Regions from separate parts of the Homo sapiens genome. Here region 2 is linked to region 1. A link means that fine-mapping ties the variant in region 1 to the expression of a gene that starts in the linked region. Tissue or cell type: whole blood. Region 1 holds a variant in brackets; the other region holds the start of a gene. All regions are shown on one strand. Distances are between the middles of the regions.

The links. PIP is the estimated chance that this variant, and not a neighbour inherited with it, causes the effect.
Region 2: ZNF180 starts here. The variant in region 1 is fine-mapped to the expression of ZNF180 in whole blood (TOPMed, PIP above 0.99).

The regions. Positions count from the first base shown.
Region 1 is chr19:44,464,872-44,467,562 of GRCh38, forward strand. It overlaps the pseudogene ZNF285BP. Among named protein-coding and RNA genes, the nearest start is that of ZNF229, 18 kb to the left of the region's middle. The variant T/A (reference allele first, on the strand shown) is at 1,105.
Region 2 is chr19:44,499,274-44,501,964 of GRCh38, forward strand. It overlaps ZNF180 (zinc finger protein 180), which reads right to left and starts at 1,249. Exons shown (of 5, transcript NM_001278509.3): 1 at 1,002-1,249. RefSeq lists enhancers at 519-1,017, 1,005-1,054, 1,018-1,518, 1,065-1,124, 1,135-1,344 and 2 more.

The sequences.
Region 1 (2,691 bases):
TCTGCTCATAAGACCTTTCAGTTTATTGAATCAGACATACTCAGATTAGTTAGAATAATCTCCCTTAAAGTCAACTGATTATGGACTTTAATCACATCTACAAATTATCTTCATAGCAATACCTAGATTAGTGTTTGATTCAATAACTGAGGACTGTAGCTTAGCCAAATTGACACATTAAAAAGACCATCACAGTGTGGCAGAAGGATTTTCTTTTAATCATGAAAAATTTAATGATGAAAATACACAAAAAAGGGCAAAGGGTCTTATGATCCTCCATTTGCAGTACCCATCATGCAGTTTCAACAATTAACTTTTTGCCAAAGAGATTTGCTTAATCTCTGTTTCAGTATTTTTCTTTCCCAAAGTATTTGAAAGAGGCATGGTATTTTACACTGTATTGGTTTTTCTCTGAGCATATCACTTTTGTATAGTACCTTATTATATATGCAACTAAAATGAATGAGCTCACACTTTTATCCTTCTGCCTGGAAACCATCTTGCCCAAGTCCAAGATTCATTAGGTACATTTTCTATCTTCTAAATTACAGCAACAGTTCACCAAATGTTCACCACTGCATCACCCAGGTCACCATTTTTCCAGCCTCCTGTAACAGTGTCCTCAATGGTTTTGGCCTGGACCTAAAGCCAATGCCATGAATATTTGGTAGCACTCTGCTGGTTTTGGTTAGCTTGGGTATGTCCTCATAGCAAAGACAGAGGGGCAAGAGAGCAAGTGGGCATGTGAGATTTCTCAAGGCCCAGGCTTAGAACTGGCACATTATCACTTTTGCTTCATTTTGGTAGCCAGAGCAGGTTACATTGCCAAGTCAAAACTAAAGAGGTAAGGAAACACACTCTGGTCCTTTAGTGAGATTGGAGAGCATGGAAGAGGATATTTCTAAATAGCAATCTAATTTAACACACTCTCTATGTATTTCAGTATATATTTCCTTAAAAATGGACTAATGAGATAATCAATAATTATTTGGTATTATCTAATACCCAGACAATAATCAAATTTCCCTGATTATCTCAAAAAAATTTTGACAGTTGCTTTGTTCAAATGGGATCTTAAAAAGGTCTATACTATCATATAGTTGG[T/A]TGTTGTATCTCATAATGTCTTTTAATCTAGAGAAATCTGCCCATCTACTTTATTCTCTCCTGCTGTTGACTTGTCGTAGAAACCAAGTTTGGTGTCCTGTGTTCTTTCCTACATTTGGAATGCATTTGTTTGCTTCCTTTTGGTGTCTTTCAGTGTGTTACTCTATCCACAGTATTTTTTGTAAGTGGAAGCACCAGATGCTTGAATAGATTCAGGTTCAAGGTTTTACAAGAATATTTCATAGATGGTTTTACAAGAATACTTCACAAAGGAAAAGATTTAAAGATGTTTTGCATGTATTTATTGGTTTATAAATTTGGTTTCTTAATATTTGGGGGCTGTCCTTGTACCTGCATCCTATGGCATTCCCTGCCTAGGATTCCTACCACCCCAAGTAGGCTTCAGGGTATCTGTATTTCCTGAATGATTAATTCCAATTCAATTTTGTTGCCTCCCACAGAAGAAGGATACAGTAGTGTTACTGACAGAGCAGTGCTATTAGGACAACTGTGCTGACTCCCCTAGATTTTGTTTTTAATCATTGTCAGATTTTGGTAATTGGACAATTGTTAGTAACATATTCTTTTTGAAGTCCTTTATAACTGCTTACAACTTTCGTTTGAAAGCTCTGCTTTATTTAGAGATGCAGAATCTATTGAGAGAACATATCTGTAAATACTCGACTCTGAGCAGTGTGACATATGCAGTGATAGAAATATTTTATGTAAAAATTGGTGTCTTGATTAGGAGATGGTTATTAATATCAGATTATTCCCCGCATCCTTTTATTTTAAGAAATTTCAATTTATCGAGAAAATGAAAGAATAGCATAATGTGTAATCTTCACCTAGATTCACCAATTGTTAACAATCACCACAAACATATGCATAATATGTGTATATACACACACATATCTATATTTTATTTTGATGACCCAGTTGGGATAAATTGCAGACATCATTATAATTCATCCCTAAATATGTCAGTTTATATCTCCTAAGAATAAGAGCATTTTCCTACATTTCCACATTACTGCTAACATACTCAGGAAATTTCACATTGATACCATTATTTTTTAATAGTTGATATCCAAATGTTCTAAATTATCCTAATAATCTCCCTCTTCCCTTTTCTGTTTTTTGAATCTAGGAGCCAATGCTTTAAGTTACCCTGTCTTCTTACTTTCCTTTAACATGATAAAAATAGATTAATCTGCCATGAAAAAGTGAAAATACCAAACCTTGGTGTGTGATGGGAAATGAACTCATGAAACACTACTGGACTTATGTATCAGCACAACACCTTAGTATAGATTTATCTGCGCCTGTGTCCTGGGCCATATTTTATAATTTGATTAATATTGTCCTTTGGGAATCCCTGATTCAATAGGATTAGTATCCTTATGAAAAGAGACTCAACAGAGCTTGCTCTCATTCTCCCTCTGCCATGTAAGGACACAGTGAGAGGACAGCTGTCTACAAGCCAAGAGAAGAAACCTGAATGAAACCTATCTTGGTGGTACTTGATCTTAGACTTTCCAATCTCCAGAACTGTGAGAAATAAGTTTCTTTTGTTTGTTTAATCTA
Region 2 (2,691 bases), 34 kb after region 1:
AGTCAGCTCTTCCCGGGACCAAATCTGCAGCACAGGCTCTGTCCCTCTACTAACCTGCACATTCTCACGCCTGCAAATAGCGTACCCAAGTAAAGGTCTCAGCAACACCTGCTTCATAACGATGCTGGCAACATACTGCTTCCTCCCCAGCTACCAATTTGATGGCAGCTGTTGCAGCTCTGTCCTTCCTGGACTTAAATTCTGTATCTCCAACCCGGAGTCTCTGCCCATCTTGAATGCTCTAGAGCTCTGCACTATCCTACATAGGTCCCTACTATCAGTTCAAGTTTCTGTTTTCCATTCAGACACCCCCAGGACGTGCAGGGGGCCCTCTGCCCAGAACCTGTTTCTAGGCCCTGATACCCTCCTTCAGCCTGGGAGTTTGCTGCCCATGGGTAATTCCCACCAAGGGTTCACTAGCAACACTGCCTCTTCTGGCACAAGAATCTGCAACTCCAATCTGGTCTCTCCACCAACCACAGCGCCCCCAGACCTTGGAGAAGCGCGTTGTCTGCTCTAGGGGCCCAGAGCCACCTGCTCGGAATCTTACCTACAACCTTTTGCTTCCTACCCAAATACCTGATCAAGAGTAAAGGGACAGTGGCACAGCCCCTCCTCTCCAGAAACCACAATCTGCAATGGAGCACTCCATCAACCCGGACATCCTCAGGCCTCCACTAAATAAGCCCGGCATTGGAGGAGGGGAGTTCTCAAGATGTCCCCTTACATCAATGCATGTGCCCTGTGTTCCAGCAACCTGGGCATCCTCAGGCCCCAGACAAGAGCACCACCTGACCAAGCACCCGCGCATGCACGCAGAGGACAGTCGCGGAATATACAGCTGTATCAGTAACTCCATCAACCCCGGTGACCCGAGGCTAAAGCGCCACCCGCACAGATACCAGGTCTCCCCGCTACACTCACCACCGCTTCCAGCTTCCCGCGTAGACCCTGCGCATGCGCGCATCGGACACCAAGCGCTGCCCCACGCCCCTACCAACCTGGGCGTCCGCTGGCCCGCAGCCCAGGCTGGGCCTGTCACCGCCTCAGTGCCTAGCACGGCTCTGCGGCAGGACGAACTCGGGTTAGGCAACCCCCTGCCCCGATTCTGCAACACGGCCGACTCGGGTTAAGCTAGTTCGGTCCCCTCTCCTAGTCAGCATCCGCAAGGCCGCTGGGGGTTAAGTCTGAAGGGCCGAGCTGCTCGGCGACAGCAAGCGTCCGCGCGCGGGACAATGGCTGCTCTTGTGGCCGAACCCGGAAGTGCACTTGGGCTCGGAGAGCCAGAACTACAATTCCCAGAAGCCTCCGCGGCGCGGACGGTCAGTAGGCGGGGTTCCGGCTTCTCCAAGGAAGTGGGGCGGGGGACCGGGCCAGAAGCTAAGAGGGCGTCCTCGTCCGGGGCCCGGGGGGGCGCCACACCTGTGCATGTGCAGGTCTAGGGGGAGCACTAAGACCAGCCGCGGCGCCGGGAGGCCGAGGCCAGTGCAGCGACGCATGGGGAGTCGCTCTGGCGTGACGTCAGAATCCAATAGAAATGGCGGGGACCCTTTCTGGGTGCCCCCTGCCTGTCAGACGCTGCGCGCGACCCCTTGTCTCCTCTAGTCCTAGGGGAAACCTGTGAGACAGTTGCGACATCCCCATTTTACAGTGGAGGGAGCGTCTACCGAACCCTTCAGGAATCTATGTTTTTACATTTAATAATACTAAAATATAATCATTTTATTTTTAAATTTTGAGTTCTTTCTCTGCCTATAAGGCCTGAAGGATCTGTTCCCCCCACCTCTCCCCTTTTCTCTGTTTTTGTTTTGTTTTGTTTTGTTGTTTTGAGACGGAATTTCGCTCTTGTCGCCCAGGCTGGAGGGCAATAGCGCGATCTCGGCTCACTGCAACCTCCACCTCCCGGATTCAAGCGATTCTCCTGCCTCAGCCTCCTGAATAGCTGGGATTACAGGCGCCAGCCACCACGCCCGGCTAATTTTTGTATTTTTAGTAGAGACGGGGTTTCACCACGTTGGCCAGGTTAGTCTCCAACTCCTGACCTCAGGTGATCCGCCCTCGGCCTCCCAAAGTGCTGGGATTACAGGCGTAGTCCCCTTTTCTCTTTGCCCTCATTTCTTGCCCATTTGCTTGGCACATTTTCCCCATTCTCCAACAGATCCAGCAGACTCCAGCCCCTGGTCGTTTGCAGGTGCTCTTTGCACTCCCTAGCAGCCTCTCCTGAGGGATTCATTTGGCTCTCACCGTCTGGTAATTAGGGGAATATCATCTTCTCATGAGGCATTGCCCCACCACCCGTTGTGAACTTGCAAGCAAACGCTTCCCTCCCCACATGCTCTGTGCCTCCCCCTTCATCTTTTATTTTTTTCTCTAAAGAACTTTTCACTATCTAGCACACTATATATTTTAATTATTTATTTGGTCTACTGTCCGACCTACCACTACGATGTCAATTCCATAAGGAAAAGCATTTTATCGATGTTGATCACTGCTGCATCCCCAACACCTAAAAAAAAAAAAAAGAGAGAGACCTGGCACATAATAGATGCTCAATAAATATTCGTTGGCTAAATAAAGGTTCCTGTCTCTGTATTAAACACTTTAATATTTCATTACCAAGCCCAATCAGCCTATGAGGTAGTTGTGTTAATTTTCATCCTACCAGGGAGGTAGCTGAAAATTGGAGCCCTG